Linked DNA regions of Homo sapiens: region 1 is linked to region 2. Evidence: fine-mapped expression QTL. Tissue or cell type: whole blood. Region 2 holds a variant in brackets; the other region holds the start of a gene. All regions are shown on one strand. Distances are from middle to middle.

Region 1 (9,308 bases), 120 kb after region 2:
TCTGGGAACGTATAAATTTGTTATTATAAAAGGCACAGATGGGGGTGGGGGGGCGGGGAATTTGTAGGCAGGGAGGCTCAGGGGGTGCTTGCTGGACGAACATTCTGGATGTTTGAGGACTCAGAAGACGCACATCCCTGTGCCCTTCTTTTTTAAACAATTATTTGAAGACAGTCTAGCTAAAGACGAATCATATCAAAATTAAAGACTTCAGAATTTGGAGGCCATGGTAGAAAGAATTAGTGATCATTCCCTACTCATTTTGAACGCAAACTAATGAATGACGCAACCTGGGCTGATGCTGCTCTACGTGACCGTCCTCAGCTGCCCCCTTCTGGTTTCTTCTCTCTAACTCATGCATGAAAGTCGACTAGGCTTACAATGCTTGTCACACTTTTCTTTGAAAAGCCCATTGATGCTGTTCTGTTGTTTTCTAGCATTATAGCAGAAGACAAGTCTAAGACCAGGCTGATTTTTGTTCTCTTGTAGGTTTTGTTTTTCTGCCTGGGTGCTTCTGTTTTTTAATTTTATCCCTGTAATTCAGAAAGAAAATTACCTCAATATAGAAATACATCTATCCAGTGACTTTTCATGCTAGGAAAACTTCAAGTTTAATCTCTACATGACTGGCTTAATTTTTACTGTCATTCTGGTGCTTCCTGTTTCTAATATGGATTTTCTCATTGCACTTCTAATTTTCTGGAATTTGCCTCACTGACCTTCCTTTACCTCTCATTTCTTTAGTTTACTTATATTCTCTTCCTTTTCATAGGAGCCATATTTTCTTGTATCCCTTTAAGGATGTTAAAAGTTTCCTACATTTTAATCTGATCCTTAAGGTAGCTTCTGCCCAAAGTACTGGGTCTTTTGTTTGATTTTCAATACCTCACACTGGATCCATGGGACAATGAGCAGTATTTGCCAGCAGGCCTGGATAATGGATTGCCCTTGATTCTTTACCTGGATGTGGTCGCAGCCCCATCTTGCTGCCCCAGCTGGGATGCCAAAACGTCTGCTCTTTGCTAAGTCCATTGGCCTAGCTATCTTTCAAGTGCAGCCGGCTTATCTATCTTAAGCTGTACAAATGCCCCATTACCAAGGTTCTCCTTGCCACCTTCTCTCAGGAACAAAAATATGAAATCTCTTTTGTATAGCAGTGGTCCAGTGGCCCCAATCTATGATGTTTAAAACTCTTGCTTGGCTGGGTGCAGTGGCTCACCCCTGTAATCCCAGCACTTTGGGAGGCCGAGGCGGGCAGATCGCTTGAGGTCAGGAGTTCGAGACCAGCCTGGCCAACATGGCAAAACCCCGTCTCTACTAAAAATACAAAAATTAGCTGGGCTTGGTAATGGGCATCTGTAATCCCAGCTACTCAGAAGGCTGAGGCAGGAGAATCACTTGAACCCAGGAGACGGAGGTTGCAATGAGCCAAGATTGCACCACTGCACTCCAGCCTCGGCGACAGAGCAAGACTCCATCTCAAACAACAACAACAACAACAAAACTCTTGCTCAATGTGTGCAGGATCAGCAGTGTGCAAAAATGTTTTTAAATGTTCTTAGATAACTTCAGTGTATTTTTCTTCTTGAAATATGTTTGACAAATGGCTTCTACTTTTAAATCTTTCCTGAGTGGAAAAGATCCTGGATAAATACATCAATAGAGTTCAGTGTTACAAGCAAAAATATACACACACACGTTGAAAACAGAATTTATCAAACCCCTGTAAAACTGTAAAGCCCTCAGTAGTTTTTTCTTTGGAAGCAGGCATATTTGGACAGCAGCAGTCAAGAACTACATAGACTTTCCACTGAATGGAACTCTAGACTTAGACAAGGTCTGGCCCACCTCGTTTTCCAGCTGTGTGGCAGTCCCCTAATCTCAGGCAGTTCAGTTTCCATTCCTATAAAATGGAAACCATTCTTGGCTTTCCACACAGTTGTGATAATCAAGTGAGGTCTTACCAGGAAAACACTTCTTTAAATGTCTAGAACTATGAAACTAATGCCTGAAGTGCGGGGTGAAACAGTTCCCTATTGCAAGTTCTGTCACATATTAGTGGAAATCTAAAAGTGGTTACAGCTTGTAACTCTTTTGACACTTCCCATACCCACCTCATTTTGACACCACTGGACAGCTGCTGCTCTGAGATAAGCTCACATACTGCTTAAATAATCGTGAAAATTATTTATTCTAACATAACATTATTTCAGGGACTTGTGCCAGTTTCAAGTGATATTAGAAACTAACAAGTAGATTATGTGACTTAATGCTTATGTGCAAAACAACTAACCAAGTTAAAAACTGAATAGTGGGGTTTTCTTTTTTGTTTGTTTTTGTTAAATAGTGGGTATTAAATAGAGGAAAGAAGTCTGTTAAACATACACAGGATCCTGAATCAGAAAATTGAGGACTAGATGTTTTCAATAGTGTCTAATGCTCTCTACTAAAATCCTTGAGTTTCAGCATCTGTAAAACTGCCATGCCAGTGCTTCTGCCCTACTCAGTTCAAAGTTGTGAGGCTAGTATGAGATAATATAATATGCTCATGGAGTTTTCTGAATCTTGTAAAGTGCTGCACAACTGTGTAATGTGTCAATAACTGAAAAAAAAATGACAGCATCTTTTATTTTTATTAAATTTTAATTTTAGGGCTGTTTTAGGTTCACAGCAAAGTTAAGCAGAAAAACAGAACTGCATATATCCCTTGTTTCCACATGTGCCTCACTGTCACTCTGCACCACAGTGGTACACTTGTTACAATCTTAAACCTACATGGACACATCATTAGCTCTCAGTGCCCATAGTTTACCTTAGGGTTCACTCTTGGTGGTGTACATTGTGTGGGTTTTGACAAACGCATAATGATATCTATCCACCATTATAGTAGTTTCACAATACATGGCATCTTTAAATACTCATTAACAATTACCATTTGAGTGAGGCTGTGTGCCTTGCACCCCTCTAAGGGCTTCTCCTGTATTAACTCATTTAATCTTCACAATATCTGTAGGAGGGAGGATATGAGATCCCAAACCCCCAGGTAGTCAAAGATGAAGGCCAAGAAACAAACCCACCACACCACCACCTCTCTATGTCCCTCCCTCCCTCCCTTCCTCCCTCCCATCACTTTTTCAGTTTCTTTCTTTCGAGATGCAGTCTCGCTCTGTCACCCAGGCTGGGGTGCAGTGGCGCAATCTTGGCTCACTGCAACCTCCGCCTCCTGGGTAGCTGGGATTACAGGTGCCCGCAAACACGCCCGGCTAATTTTTGTATTTTTAGTAGAGACGGGGTTTCACCATGTTGGCCAGGCTGGTCTAGAACTCCTTATCTCAAGTAATCTGCCGGCCTCCGGCCTCCCAAAGTGCTGGGATTACACGTGTGAGCCACTGCGCCCGGCCCCCAGTTTCTTTTATTTTCTTTCTTTCTCTCTCTTTCTTTCTTCTTTCTATCTGTCTGTCTGTCTCTCTCTTCCTATCTTCCGTTCTTTCTTTTTTTTTTTGAGACAGAGTCTCACTCCGTTGCCCAGGCTGGGAGTGCAGTGGCACGATCTCAGCTCACTGCAACCTCCGCCTCCCAGGTTCAAGCGATTCTCCTGCCTCAGCCTCCTGAGTAGCTAGGATAACAGGTGTGCACCACCACACCCGGCTAATTTTTGTATTTTTAGCAGAGATGGGGTCTCACCATGTTGGCCAACCTGGTCTCGAACTCCTGACCTCAGGTGATCTCCCCGCCTCGGCCTCCCAAAGTGCTGGGATTACAGGCGTGAGCCACGCGCCCGGCCCCCAGTTTATGTGCAGATAAGGCTTAGGGGAAAAAAAAAAGCGTCCTCTTATTGTCAATGCGATTGCATTTCTGTAGCAGGAAGTCAGAACTACTTGATGGAATTTTGAACTATCCTTTCAGAAACTGCAGGAGATCGAAGATAAACTTGGCTTTAAAAAATGTTTCACTGATTAGTTCTTCCCACATTCAAACACTGCGAATCTGTCCTCCCCAGGACTGCTTCATAGACCCCTCCTGCCCTTTTTCCTTCACTTCTAGCACTTCAATGACAAATGCCACCTGTCTTGATGTCCTCCTCTCTTCATCTGCTAGCCCTGTCCTGCCAGTATCTCATTCTTCCCTGGCCCCTCTTTACCTGGCTTCCTGTGTATGCCTGGGTACCGCGCCTGTGCAGTGTCTGGTGCTCAGGAATACTGCATCAAAAGGCAGAATTAAGCCCCTGAGCAGCCAGGACAAGGTCTGACAACACGTTTTAAATCGAGTAATTGTTGCTCGCTATAAATGTGACTATTCACACTGCTGCCCAGTCACATTTTCAAGTAGGGTTGGTTCCCAGTTCAGCACCAGAATGAAAACTGCATTAGTCACCACCCTTCAGCATCCCCAGCAGTACAGCACGCTGGGGAGAAGGGTGGAGGGTGGCGATTATACAACTCTGCGGTAACGCCATGCTCTTAAGAACAGCCTAATTGGACCACAAAAGAAGAATGAAAATGGATGTAGATGTCTGGGCATCGGAACGATCACTCTGCATTTGAGAGCATAAGCTCCCAGTGCAGGGTTGACTTATGCGTCCTTAAGTGTCACCGCCTATGATGGTGTTTGTCACGGTGAGTATTAAAGCAGGGGGTGACGCTGCACCTTGCCCCGGGGGCAGGTGGTGAAGCTACGTGCATCCGGAGTCAGCAGGTCTGAGGTCATTCCTCGCCCCCTCCCGCCCGCTCCCCGACGTCACGCCGACTCCGTCCTCGGCGGTGAAGACATTCCTCCCGGGCCCTGCGCCCTGCAGCGTGGTAACCCCACTGCCGGAGACCGTGCGCAACCCAGCTGCTAGACCCCCGGCGTTGAGCGGCAAAACCCCGCCCCGAGCGGCTTGCCCCGCCCCCGGCTCGTCACTCATGCAACTCACCCAATGGTGGCGGCGGGGGGCGGGGCTAGGACTGAGGGCGCCGTGCGCCGAAGCTTGTGGCGTCAATGCGCCCGCCGTGTCCATGGAGAGAAGCTGAGGCGGCCGACCTTCGGCCCGAGGCACCGGGGCGCCGGGACGGCGAAGATGTCGGCTTCCTTAGTCCGGGCAACTGTCCGGGCTGTGAGCAAGAGGAAGCTGCAGCCCACCCGGGCAGCCCTCACCCTGGTGAGTGCTCGCGGCGCGCGGCGGGGCCCGTGACATTGCTCGTGTCCGCCCCGTGCAAGGGGAGGTCACGGCGGCCGGGAGTGGGGCCGCAGGGACGCGGACACGTCAGACCTCGGCGTCGCTCCGACCCGCCGCACAGCCTCGCCGCCTCCTTCGCCTCCGGCCCCTCTTTGCAACGATAAACAAGTCCCGGGCGGGGCTGCTCTCTTGGCCCCGGAAACTACGTTTCCCGTCAGGCCGCGCGGCAACCGCGTGCGGGCCGGAGGGGATCCCGGGGGTGGGCGTCCCCGGGGGCCGATCGCCTCCACACTCCTGCCGGCCTGCGCTGTTCGGCCGTTCCGGTTAAGCAGAGGCTGAACGTGCCCGGTGGCGGGGGTTCCCGGTGGTGGCCCGGAGTCCTAGCCTGGAGGTGCGTGGGGTGGGGAGGGACCAGGCTGTCCGAAGGACCGCTGTGTCGGGGCGACAGCGTTCGCAGAGGGCGAGCACAGCGACAACAAAGCCCCCGGCTCCTGCCGAGGTCACGGCCGCGGCGCGCAAAGCGTTACTTGCCGGTGTCCTGGGTGATTGAGGCCTTTGAAACTCCCTCTGTGCCTCTAGCAAGCCTAGGCTCTTAGGACAAAAGATGATTTCCCAGAGTGAGTTTACAGCCTTTTCTGGGTGAAAGGTCAAACACTCAGAGGGCACCAGAGTGCAACCATTGATTACTTAGAGAATTCACTGAGCTCAGTGTTCCGGCCGCACCGTTCAGTTTTTTAGTGGAAGGAAAATCCACATAACATAAAATTAGTCCTTTTAAAGGGTACAATTCAGTGCCATTTAAGACATTCACAGTGTCGTGCAACCATCACCTCTATCTAGTTCCAAAATACTTTCACCCCAAAAGAAAAATTTATGATCACGTTCCTACATACACTCCCCTTTTAGTGAAGGAGACGACTTTATGCAACCATTCGCTTAGAGACTGGGAAAAAAAACGATTTAAATTGACTCATCGATTCTGTTGCATCTAATGCCAAAAGGGCCTATTACCAGAAAATAAGTTTGTAGCAAAGTAGAAGAAAATTGTGATCAGGTGAGAGAATTTATTTTTATAATCAATTTTTTAGGCCTTTGATATTACCCTGATTATATATGGTACTACTAGTGTACTGATTATGTATCATTCTATATTACCTCTTTTCTGTAGGAGCAAGCTTATTTTCATACACCGTGGGATGTAGAATTAAACAAGGTTTTAAGAACTAGAGGGCACAACTCATTCTTTGTGTCTCTTTCAATCTCAGTAAGAATTATTCAGAATTCTTCCACTGGTAATGGTAGATCCAGGAAGAGCCAGAAGGTTCAGGAACAGTTTTTGCCTTTTCTTTTTTGCTTTTTAGCAACCCTATTAACTGGGTTTTTTGTTTTTTGTTTTTTGTTTGTTTGTTTGTTTTTGTTTGTTTTGTTTTTGGAGACAGGGTCTCACTCTATCTCCCAGGCTGTAGTTCAGTGGTGCAATCATGGCACACTGCAGCGTCAACCTCCTGGGCCCAAGCGATCCTCCCACCTCAGGCTCCCAAGTCGCTGGGACCACCGGTGTGCACCGTCATGCATGCACCTAGGGTCTCCCTGGGTTGCCCAGGCTGGTCTCGAACTCCTGGGCTCAAGCAGTCCACTGCCTCAGGCTCCCAGTGTGCAGGGATTACAGGTGTGAGCCACCATGCCTGGTCCCTGATGTCTTTCTCCATCACCATTTGACATGTTACCTCTTCCTTCAGAATTTCTTTTTTTTTTTTTTTTTTTTGAGACAGGGTTTCGCTGGGTTGCCCAGGCTGGAGTGCAGTGGCGTGATCTCAGCTCACTGCAGCCTCTGCCTACTGAGTTCAAGCAACTCTCTGCCTCAGCCTCCTGAGTAGCTGGGATTACAGACGCCCACCACCATGCCCAGCTTATTTATTTATTTATTTTTGTATTTTTAGTAGAGATGGGGTTTCACCATCTTCACCAGGCTGGTCTTGGACTCCTGACCTCGTGATCCACTCGTCTCAGCCTCCCAAAGTGCTGGGATCACAGGCATGAGCCACCGTGCCTTGCCCTTCCTTCAGAATTTCTATGTCAGTCCCTTTCTCTCCATTCCTAGTCATTCAGCAGACATTTATCAAGATCTGCTGTGTTTCAAGACAAATGAATGAGTTATACAGTTCCCAGCCTACGGGGCACAGTCGCAGGCCAAGCCTTTGCCACCTCTTACTAGGAGTAATAGCACTGCACATTCTCAGGCTTGGTCTCTCTCCACACTTGCTCCCCTCTGCTTCAGTACATGTTATCATAGCAGTTCTCAAGGTATCCATGTTGCCTGACTCAGCTGTTTTGATTAACTTGCAGGAGTCTACTGTCTGTACTCTGTTGTCCTACTTAAGTATGGCTGACTTTAGAAGCTTCTCAGAAGCTGTACCAGAGAGAAGGCACATCAATGCTGTTTTCCACACAGCCTGTGTTGGTGGGCTTGCAGTCATTTTAGTTCCAGCATTCGTGCCCTAGTCAGGACACTATGGCATGTATTGCTCTTTGTGCTTAGTTTATCATCAGCATGTATCGTCAAGTGCAAAAGTAGTGATGCCGTCAAAGGCCTAATGAATGGAGACAGATAAGAGAGCAAACAAAAGTATACGTAATTCAGTAAAACTGATTGGAAGAGGTAAATGTTACTTGGGTCTAATAAGTAGAGACAGATAAGAGCAAACACAAGTATACCTAATTCAGTAAAACTGATTGGAAGGGATAAATGTTACCTGGATATATAAATTTTGATGTTAGGAATTTGACATGTTGCAACATTTGAAAAGTGCTATATGTGTGGAGTCTACCAGATGTCAACAAAAGGCTAGGAAAAGTAACTGATAATATAACACAGTTCAATGCTGTCATTATCAGATTATCTACATCTTCCCTATTTCCCTACATATCTAGAAATTGACAAGTGGAATTGAACTTGCAGGAGCCAGATGTGATTAAAGAATCTGAAGAGTAAATAGTGCCCTGCTTGCAGACAGATTTATTTCCATCATTGTACAAGTCAGAGCAACTCTAATTTGTAGGACTGGGGTGGATCACAGCTGTGCATTAAAACTCAACCAAGTTCTATGAGAGAATGATGGTGCACAGCCACTATCATTCTTGATGAATTCATTGTGTACGGAAGGTGCCTTAGGGCTTAACTTTCTATTGGAGTCCAGTTGAGAAGCTAGGAAATGCTTAATGCTCAGTAAGGAACTGTGTGTTAGTTCATTGGACTAGAACCAGAAGTCCTTTTGAACAGTGACCAAGCACTAAGATTTCTATACGAAGGCAGTTTAGGAAATACTACACAAGAAGCACTGGAAGTAGCCTAGCAGTCTAACAGTGAAAGAACGGTTAAGTACGTGAGAGTAGATCCTGTTGGTGAAGGATGTAGTCATTGTAAATTATGGTTTTTTTTAAGTTTCAGCGTTATAAATCTTCATTCTTTGACTTATGCTGTGCAAATTATTTAATCTTTAATACCTAAATCACAATGGCAGGAATAAAAAGATGTTACGTTTAAACCATTAAACACTTAGAAGGTGCTCAGTAAATGGTGAATATATGTTTATTACCATGTATCAAATGAAAAAATAATTTGTTAAATTGTTTCAATGGAGGCTGCAAAATTATGTATATATGCCATGATTACAAACCTTTTTCTTTTTAGAGACAGGATCTTCCTCTGTCACCCAGGCTCATATGCAGTGGCATGATCATGGCTTACTGCAGCTTCAAACTCCTGGGCTCAAGCAATCCTTTCACCTCAGCCTCCCAAGTAACTGGGACTACAGGCACATGTCACCTTGACTGCTAATTTTTTTTTTTTAATTTATTGTAGAGACAGGGTCTTGCTCTGTTGCACAGGCTGGTCTCAAACTCCTGGCCTCAAGCCGTCCTCCCACCTTGGCCTCCCAAAGTGCTGGCATTACAGGCATGAGCCACCACACCTGGCCTACAAATATATATTTGTATATTATATGTATTTTGGATGTGTATATACACATATACACAAATAAGAAAAGACAAAAGAGAATGCTTTTGTCTTTTCTTATTTTGACACTCTAATGCCAGCCATGGCTGTTAAAGAATGATTTTAATAAAATACACTGTACTTGTTCACTGGCTC
Region 2 (10,677 bases):
CTCTGTCCTCTTGAGGCTGCAAGTGACCCTCTCCCCACCCCCGTACAAATTTAACATACCTTGAAGTCATTATAATTAATTACCAGCTGACTATAGCCCAGAGAGCTTCTAAGTCTATATTTTGAATAATAACTCTGCAAAGGTAATGTGCATGTGTTTTGGGGGGAGAACGATAACCTTAAAAATCTTATAAGTGTTTCTGAGCTTGGTTCTCTAATGCCTGGAATGATACAAATTTAGGGGCATTGCCTTTTATGGGAAGAGATACTAGGAAAAAGTAAAAGGAGAAATGGGTTTTTCTGGAAAACTATAAGAACAATTATCTTAAATGAGAGATAGTTGAGGCTCTGGGGTTAATGAATAAAAAAAGATGATGGCAAAAGAAACATAAGACATTGATGAGTGAAAACAAGAGCTAATAGTTTTGGCAGAGCCAAGTTTACCAGTGTGTTGGCAGGAGTTACTGTTCCTTCTTGTGTGATTTCTTTGAGGACATTGCACTGTTTATACAGAGAGTGTAAACATAGCTGTTGATTTAACTAAACACTGTTTTTTGTTCCCCGTCTCTCACAGCCATGGTAAATAGCCTAATATTTAAGCTCAGAGGCTTTGATGTGAGTTAAGGTAAGATTCAGTTGTGCTGGTCATAGCTGTGCGCCTTAGAACAAACTTCCTACCCTCTCTGAGTCCAGTTTCAAGATTGCTACAGGAATCACAATCCTATCTGTCTCAAAAAGCAGTTTTAAGGATATAATGAGGCAATGTGTATAACCACCAGAGTATAATTTCTGGGACACAGCAAATCCTTAATGAATGTTGGGGTGAAGTGGGGTGGCACTTTGCTGTTGTCAATTTATCTAAATAAAGTCCCCACTTACAAACACCTAGTATAGAATAAAACTAACGGTCTCCAGGGTCAGCGCTAAAACCTCAGACTCTGAACAGTATCACACAAAATGCTTGCATAAGGTAGCTTTTCACAAAGAAATGCGACGAACCCTGGAAGAAAAACTGAGGATAACAGAAATGTCCACTTAGGACATTTAGACAGACCCACTCAAGTGTTTGTGAAGGGAAGATGGCACATTACCATCAGGTCTTTCTGAGCTGGCCGCAGGTCCTATCCGGGGATTCTAGAAATTAAAATGGCCTGACATGAGTCTGATTTTGCCCAAGCATCCTCACAGGACCTCTTGAGAATGTAATCATTCTACTACTTTGTCTGAGGGTAGAAACAGGGAAACAAGGGAAAGCTGGAAAGTGATTGTAGGAAGGCCCCGTAATGGGACCATGGTAGGAGGAATGTGTCTCAGGAAAGGTGAGAAAGTTATTCTCACTTCCTCTCATCATTCTCTTCATCAACCTCTCCTCAGACGGCATGGGCTAGGGCACTGGACATCCTCCAAACTTGATCAGTTATATGATATCACTCTAATATAACATAATGTTCTTAGTCTATTTTGGCTTTTATAACAAAATACCATAAACTGGTTGGCTTATAAACAACAGGAACTTATTATTTCTTACTGTTCTGGAGGCTGGAGTGTCCCAGATCAAGACACTGATAGATTCCATGTCTGGTGAGGGCCTGCTTCCTGGTTCTTCTCACTGTGTCTCACATAATGAGGGCGTTCTATGGGGTGCCTTCTAAAGGGGCACTAATCCCATTCAAGAGGGCTTCTTCATCATTGCCTAATCACCTCCCAAAGCCTCCACCTCCTGATACCATCACCTTGGGGGTTAGGATTTCAACATACCCATTTTGGAGGTACACAACATTCAGCCCATAACAATAATGAAATTGTATCCTTTTAGCAGCAGGTACCAGAATTCATCTTGTACAGGATCCATCATTGTTGGGAAAAGACCCTGGGTCAGCCCACTTCAGCCAGGGAGGTACCCATGGGGTCATGGATGTTGGCTGGCACTGTGGCTTCCACAAAATTATCCTGAGAAGGGTGAGATGTCTGTGACACTCCTGAAGTGAAGGAGGAAGAAGAGACTGAAGGAAAGAGAAAGTTAAAAGAGAGAGAAAAAAGAAGAGTCAATGCAGTGATAAAGAAGACAGCCCCTCAAAGTCTCACCAAAGCCACTAAGCCCATAAAGGCTTGGAAGTGGGTTAAGAGTATGAGTGGGGTTTGTGTCCAAGTTGACAGATCATAAAGCAGAAAAAATACAGGCAGAAGTAGAGCTAGAAGGCAATGTGGCCTCAGCTGCTAGCTGGGTTACATAAAATATCATATGATTAAACACATAGTAAGTCCTCACTTAACGTTTTTGATAGGTTCTTGGAAACTGCGACTTTAAGCAGAACTATGTGTAGCAGGTCCTCAAATAGCATCGTTTTGTTCAACATTGTTTTATTATAACGTTGATTAAAAAAAATTGGTTTTGTCACACATCATTTTGCTTAAAGTCACAGTTTCCAAGAACCGATTGAGGTCATTAAGTGAGAACCTACTGTATGTATTTCTACTAAAGGCTCAAAATATTAAGGTGCAAAAAGATCTAGAGATGAGACAGTGTGTAAGTGGCATGCCAAGCAGAGGGAACCCCCGTGCAGATGCACAGAGACAACCATGAACAAAGTCATGCACCCATCAATATTTGCTGAACTCCTGCCATGTGCAAAGGAACTATGCCAGGCTGTGGAACCCCATGTTGAGCAAAACCAGAGTCCTGGCATTCACACACCAATGAGAAAGACAGACACTAATCAAGTCACTGCACAAAAGTCTATAAAATGACAGTGGTCAGGAGGGCTATGCAGCCCTCTCATGGTGCAATGAGAGAATGAACAGGGAAGCTGGCCTCGCCAGGGGGATCAGAGACCTCTTCCACAAATAAGCAATGCTTGGCCTGAGAACTGAATGATGAGACCTTAACTAGGTGAAGAAAATAGAGCAAAGCACCCCAGGAAGAGGAATATGGGTGGCAAGTTGGAGGACTGAAAGAATGCAATGTGTGTTTAGGGCAAAAAGAACGCTGGGGAGAATGAGCAGCATGAAGCCGGGAGGTTGGAAGGAGCAGGTTTCTCAGGGGCTGCAGACCACGTTACCAAGTTTAGTTTTTACCATCAGGGAGAGAGGAAGTCACTGACAGGAAACTGATAGGAACACCCAAGAAAGTCTGAAAATGGCAGATGAGTCCTCTGCATATGCATAAACTGTGTCTCCACTTTACTTAGCATCTCCATAAACTATAAATTTGGCTTACCCTGAGTTGCTGGGCATGCCCCAAATGAAAAAATATTTAATTAACATCATTAACTTAGAAGGTTGGGCACAGTGGCTCACACCTGTAATCCAAGGACTTTGCGAGGCCGAGGCAAGAGGATTACTTGAGCTCACGAGTCAGAGACCAGACAGGGCAACATGGCAAAACCCCATCTCTACTAAAAAAAAACAAAAAACCTGGTGGGTGCTTGTAGTCCCAGCTACTCAGGAGGCTGAGGTGGGAGGATCGCTTGAACCCGGGAGGTGGAGGTTGCAGTGAACTGAGATTGCACCACTGCATTCCAGACAGCCTGGGTGACAGAGCACGACTCCACTTCAAATTTAAAAAAAGACAAAAAGTAATAGAAGGAAAAAATTTTAGCTTACTAACTGCATTGCCATAATCAGTATTTTTAAAATGAGTTTTCTATCAATACACAAGAAAAACCCTAAATTCTGAACTACCACTGAAACGTAAATACCCAGGATGTGAATTCACAATTTAATGTTTAATTTTTAGTGACTTGAAGAATACTGATCAAACAGCCGGAGTTCTATTTCTTTTTTTGTTTGTTTGTTTGTTTGTTTGAGACAGAGTTTTGCTCTCATTGCCCAGGCTGGAGTGCAATGGTGCAATCTCGGCTCACGTTACAACCTCTGCCAGTTTCAAGTGATTCTCCTGCCTCAGCCTCCTGAGTAGCTGGGATTACAGGTGCCCGCCACCATGTCCAGCTAAATTTTTTGTGTTTTTAGTAGAGATAGGGTTTCACTATGTTGGCCAGGCTGGTCTTGAACTCCTGATCTCAGGTGATCCACCCGCCTTGGCCTCCCAAAGTGCTGGGATTGCAGGCATGAGCCACCGCACCCGGCCCAGAGTTCTAATTGTGACTCTGCCTCTTATTAGTCACATAGCCTTGCACAAGTCTCCAAACCTCTCTCAGTCTCAGTTTTCTCATCCATAAAATGGGATAAAATGGGTCCAATGTGCCCCACAGTATTAAAAGTGAGATTCTTGGGCAGGGCGTGGTGACTCACGCCTGTAATCTCAGCACTTTGGGAGGCTGAGCCAGGCTGATGGCTTGAGCGAGTAGTTCGAGACCAGCCTGGGCAACATGGTGAAACCCCATCTCTACAAAAAATACAAAAATTAGCCGGGTGTGGTGGCATACACCTGTAGTCCCAGCTACTCGGGAGGCTGAGATGGGAGAATCACATGAGCCCAGGAGGTTGGGAATGCAGTAAACCGAAATCGCACCAGTGCACTCCAGCCTGGGTAATTGAGGGAGACTGTCTCAAAAAAAGAAAAGAAGCAAGTAAGAGCCTTTTGTAATAGAGTGATATACCAGACAAAGAGATTATCATTAACCTTTCTCCAAATTTGCATGGAGAAAATACAGAACTGTAGAACTTATTCCACTCAGATAGTGACTTTTTTTAACTTCATGCCTCAAACTGTTTTGTAATATTGTTACAAAATCATGCTTTAT[C/A]TTTAAATCCATTGTTCTCTAATACATCATAAAACTATTTCTTATGTACGTGAAGCCACCAAGATAGAGATTCTTTGGGAAAAAAAGTTTTGTTTCATTTTATTTCAGCCCTGATGAATAATTCAATTCCAATATTATGACCAAAGTTTTATATATATTTTTAAAAAGGAAAAGAACACATGAGGCTGGGTGTGGTGGCTCACGCCTGTAATCCCAGCACTTTGAGAGGCTGAGGCAGGGGGATCACCTGAGGTCAGGAGTTAAAGACCAGCCTGGCCAACACGGTGAAACCTCATCTCTACTAAAAATACCAAAAATTAGCCCTCCACCACACCTGTAATCACCGCTGCTCAGGAGCCTGAGGCAGGAGAATTGCTTGAACCAGGGAGGCGGAGGTTGCAGTAAGCCAATATCGCACCATTGCACTCCACAACAGAGTGAGATTTTTGTCTTAAAAAAAAAAAAGAAAGAAAGAAAAGAAAAAACATGAAAAGATGCTCAACTCATAAAAAAGAAGCACATGTTAAAACTATATGAGATGCGGCTGGGCGCAGTGGCTCACGCCTGTAATCCCAACACTTAGGGAGGCCGAGGTAGGTGGATCACGAGGTCAGGGGATTGAGACCACCCTGGCTAACACAGTGAAACCCCGTCTCTACTAAAAATACAAAAAAAACTTAGCAGGGCGTGGTGGCGCTCGCCTGTAGTCCCAGCTACTCAGGAGGCTGAGGTAGGAGAATGGTGTGAACCCAGGAGGCGGAGGCTGCAGTGAGCCGCGATCGGGCCACTGCACTCCAGCCTGGGCGACAGAGCAAGACTCTGTCTCAAAAAAAACAAACAAACAAACAAACAAAAAACTATATGAGATGCTATTTTGCACCTATCAGATTGGCAGAAATGTAAACTCTTGACAAACAAGAGAGGTTGTGGGAAAGCACACGCTCTCCTTCCCTCCTGGGCGGTACAAAATGTTACCTACGGAAAGGAAACGGGCAATATCTAGCAAAAGTACATTTGCAGTTTCCCTTTGATCCAGAGATCACGCTTCTATGAATTTACCCTGAAAATGCACCTCCAACAACAGAAGAAAACACGTGCACAAAGTTATTCATCGCAACATTATTTGTAATAGAAAAATACTGGAAACACCCTAAAGGCCCATACATAGGAGTTTGGTTGATAAACTCTGGTACAAATATAAAAAAGATTTCTGTTAAACTATATAAACTGATTTCCAGACTATATTACTAAATGAAAAAAGACTGTATATAGTATGCTACCTTTTGTGTGATAAAGACAAAATATATATTCATTCATTTATTTAAAAAAGAAAAATACAGAGGCCGGGTGCTGTGGCTCATGCACGTAATCCCAACACTTTGGGAGGCCAAGGCAGGCAGATCACAAGGTCAAGAGATCGAGACCATCCTGGCCAACAGAGTGAAACCCCGTCTCTAAAACACAAAAATTAGCTGGGCGTGGTGGCATGCCTGTAGTCCCAGCTACTCGGGAGGCTGAAGCAGGAGAATCGCTTGACCCCGGGAGGTGGAGGTTGCAGTGAGCCGAGATCGCGCCACTGCACTACAGCCTGGCGACAGAGCAAGACTCCGTTAAAAAAAAAAAAAGAAGAAAGAAAAAGAAATACAGGATAAATAAGAAATAAATGAATTTGGTTACCTGTGAGGGTTGAGGAAATGGACTGGAAAAAAATGAAAAGGGGATGGGACCTGTCTCAGTATAACTTTCATACTGTCTTGAATTTTGAACCATGCTGGTATTTTACATATTCAAAAAATAAAATTAAATCAACAAGAATGGAGGAACAGAGACCTGACAGTGAAAGAAATGAATAAACTTGATTATAATCGAATTGGTAACATGATTGGAAAGAAAAAAGAATTAATCCAAACAACTTTTGGACACAGCAGGAAAGTATTCTGGCTATACACCTTCAATGGAATAGAGTCTAAGAGTCTAAGACCAAAAAAAAAAAAAAAAAGAATCTTAAACTTGCTAGGTTTGCTTGCTTTTGGTAATAGTGTTGGTGGTGAGGCAATTCTGGAACCATTTTGTGTATATTGCAAGAATGAGCAAATGAGTAAACATCTATTGACATTTTGAGGTACCAGGAATTTCACTGTGGGAGAAAAAAGATACAAATATAGATTAGGGGAAGGAGAGGAGGAAGATCCTATATTATTGGATTGGGTATCAGTTGGTGGTATCATTATGAATTCATGATTTTGACAGAAGTATTTTCCTGTTCTGTGCATTGAAAGGCCCTAAAAGCAATTTTGCCACAGAGTAGTGAGCACACACAGCACCCATATCTTGCTCTCTAAATACCATTCACCAGACCCTTTGGAAGCATAGCTCATTTTCAGGTGAGCCTGGAACATCTTATTGTGCCAGAAATGTTAAAAGTGCTCAAAAACTGAGGAAGATGTGTCAAAGAGATACAAGAACCAGTTTATGGGGGCTGCCACTCATCAAATTTGGGGCAATTCATACTCAATAAAATAGAATTCATGAGTTCATACTGATATTAAGAAATGTTAAAGGGATTAGGAAGAGAAGGGAAGTCCTTTTTATAGAAAAATGCCAACTAATAAACATAGACAAAATGATAGAAATAGAAAATTGTCAGTCAGGCAAAGTGGCTCATGCCTGTAATCCCAGCAGTTTGGGAGGCTGAGGCAGGCAGATCATTTGAGGACAGGAGTTAGAAACCAGCCTGGTCAACATGATGAAACCCCATCTCTACTAAAAATACAAGAAACAGCTGAGCCTGGTGGCACACACCTGTAATCCCAGCTGCTAAGGAGGCTGAGGCAGGAAAATCAGGACCCAGGAGGTGGAGGTTGCAGTGAGCCAAGATCATGCCACTGCACTTCAGCCTGGGTGACAGAGCAAGACCCTGTCTCAAAAAAAGAAAAAATAATAGAAAATTGCCATTTCAATGGCTGGGCGTGGTGGTTCATGCCTATAATCTCAGCGCTTTGGGAGGACAAGATGGGTGGATCACTTGAGGTCAGGAGTTCAAGACCAGCCTGGCCAACATGGTGAAACCTGTCTCTACTAAAAATACAAAAATTAACCAGGCATAGTGGCAGGTGCCTGTAATCCCAGCTACTTGGGAGGCTGAGACAGGAGAATCACCTGAACCTGGGAGGCGGAGGTTGTGGTTAGCTGAGATGGCGCTACTGCACTCCAACCTGGGCAACAGAGCAAGACTCTGTCTCAAAAAAAAAAAAAAAAAAGAAAGAAAGAAAATTGCCATTTCGTAACTACCACAGTAATATATGATTCGCAAAGGAATCATCTGTGGGTACTAAAACCATTGGGAGAAAGATGGGGAAACAGGATATTCACGCAGTCTCAAAGTAGCACATCACTGGTTATATTTTAATTATAAAGAAAAAAAGGAATGATTATGATGGGGAAATCCAGTAGACACCACTTTAATTAAATGAACAAATTCAACATCACCAATTTTTAAAACAATTCACATCACCAGTCCTCTGCTCTGTAATGTACTGAGACCCATGACACAACCACACCCTGTGCAGTATTCTTGCCAATAATGTTTAACCAAAGTCTAGTCATGGGAAAACAATCAGACACGTGCAGAAGAACCAGCCTGAACTCTTCAAAAATGTCAATATCATGCACAAATTTTAAAAGGGCTGGCAAACTGTTTTACATTAAAGAACACTAAAGAGACATGAAAACAAATGCAAGGTCTGATCATTGCCCAAACTTTGAATTAAAAAACAAAAACTGACTTGAGCATAGCAGCACGGACCTGTGGTTCCAGCTGCTCAAGTGGCTGAGACGGGAGGAACGCTTGAGCCCAGGAGTTTGAGACCAGACTGGGCAGCACAGCGGGACCTAGTCTCTAAAAATATAAATTGAAAATTAAAATTAGAAACCATGCTAAAAAGCAGTATTGGGCCAACTGCAGAAATTTAAATATAGACTGCATATTAGAAAATAGTATTGTGTCAATGTTAAATATGACCCGAGTGTGATCTTTGCATCATGCTTATATATAGGAAAATATTCTAATTTTTGAGAGAGACATGCAGAGTGTTTTGGGGCTTGGGTATCATGATATCTGTAACTCTCAAATGGTTCAGCTAAGGATACACACGTACAAAGGGAGAGAAAGGAAGAAAATGTGACAAAAATGGTAAAATTAGTGACATATAAACAGCATATGGAAGTTCATTGTACATTTCTCACAAATCTTCTGTAGGTTTGACATTTTTCAAAGTAAAACATTGGGAATAAGAAGAAAAGGGAGTTTTTTTCACAGTCACGGCAAGATGATAGCATGGTTAGGCAACCTGAGAGCCGGTAAATATTCCTCTGGGTTGATCCTTTCCCAGAGCGCAAGCCCTCACAGAGTAATTAAGCAAAAACAAAATAAATTAAGTGAATACAAAACACCCAGTGAGATTTGAGTTTCAGGCAAGCAATGAACAATTTTTTTGGTACAAGAATGTTCCAAGTAGTGTATGGGACACCCTTTATTTGCTCTGGCAACCCCACTGAGAGGCACTTTGGCCTGTTCCATGCCCAGGGGATAAAGCATACCAGTTCAGGAACCAGGACAGTTCAAGGTTAGGTCCATTTATCTTTTTTATTTACTTTTTTTGTTTCATCGAACTCTATTTTCTTGAATGAAGGCCACTCTTCAATTTTCTCCTTATATATTGGCAGTGCAGCTCTGCCTTAGGCTCAATTTTTTCTTACTGAATTTCCAAGCTTTCTCCTACTCCCACCACATTTGACTTTCAAGTTCTTCCCTTTTCTCATTCTCTTCACTGCTTTCTTCCTTCTCAACTTCCACCTCTTTGGCCCAGGAGGGAATATCACACCTCCTAAACAATGAATGATAGCTAGCAGGGATTGCTTCTGGAAATGTGAATCATTGCATTAACCCCACCCAATATCATTAGTTAAAAGTTCTGACCTAGGCTGGCAGGGGACTCTCCCCTCCCAAGGGAAACCCTGGATGTCTTGAGGTAACTTTTTTATTTTTTATTTTTATTATTTTTTATTTTATTATACTTTAAGTTCTACGGTACATGTGCACAACGTGCAGGTTTTTTACATAGGTAGACATGTGCCATGTTGGTTTCCTGTACCCCTCAACTCATCACTTACATTAGGTATTTCTCCTAATGCTATCCCTCCCCAAGCCCCCAGCCCCCAACAGGCCCCAGTGTGTGATGTTCCCCACCCTGTGTCCATGTGTACTCGTTGTTCAACTCCCAACTATGAGTGAAAACATGCAGTGTTTGGTTTTCTATTCTTGTGATAGTTTGCTTAGAATGATGGTTTCCAGATTCATCCATGTCCCTGCAAAGGACATTAACTCATCCTTTTTTTATGGCTGCATAGTATTCCATGGTGTATATGTGCTATATTTTCTTAATCCAGTCTATTACTGATGGACATTTGGGTTAGTTCCAAGTCTTTGCTCTTGTGAATAGTGCCTCAAAAAACATAAATGTGCATGTGTCTTCATAGTAGCATGATTTGTAATCCTTTGGGTATATACCCAGTAATGGGATGGCTGGGTCAAATGGTATTTCTAGTTCTAGATCCTTGAGGAATCACCACACTGTCTTCCACAATGGTTGAACTAATTTACACTCCTACCAACAGTGTAAAAGCATTCCTATTTCTCCACATCCTCCCCAGCACCTGTTGTTTCCTGACTTTTTAATGATCACCATTCTAACTGGCATGAGATGGTATCTCATTGTGGTTTTGATTTGCATTTCTCCGATGACCAGTGATGATGAGCATTTTTTCATGTCTGTTGGCTGCATAAATGTCTTCTTTTGAGAAGTGTCTGTTCATATCCTTTACCCACTTTTTGATGGGGTGGTTTGTTTTTTTCTTCTAAATTTGTTTAAGTTTTTTGTAGACTCTGGATATTAGCCCTTTGTCAGATGAGTAGA

The links. PIP is the estimated chance that this variant, and not a neighbour inherited with it, causes the effect.
Region 1: it holds the start of ISCA1, and the variant in region 2 is fine-mapped to the expression of ISCA1 in whole blood (TOPMed, PIP above 0.99).

The regions. Positions count from the first base shown.
Region 1 is chr9:86,278,210-86,287,517 of GRCh38, reverse strand. ISCA1 (iron-sulfur cluster assembly 1) reads left to right here and starts at 4,980. Exons shown (of 4, transcript NM_030940.4): 1 at 4,980-5,140. The coding sequence starts at 5,060. It overlaps LOC124902194 (a long non-coding RNA gene), which reads left to right and starts at 5,437. Exons shown (of 2, transcript XR_007061634.1): 1 at 5,437-5,549; 2 at 6,065-9,301. RefSeq lists enhancers at 4,580-4,859, 4,980-5,129 and a silencer at 5,300-5,599.
Region 2 is chr9:86,395,213-86,405,889 of GRCh38, reverse strand. No RefSeq gene overlaps it. Among named protein-coding and RNA genes, the nearest start is that of TUT7, 46 kb to the right of the region's middle. The variant C/A (reference allele first, on the strand shown) is at 4,703.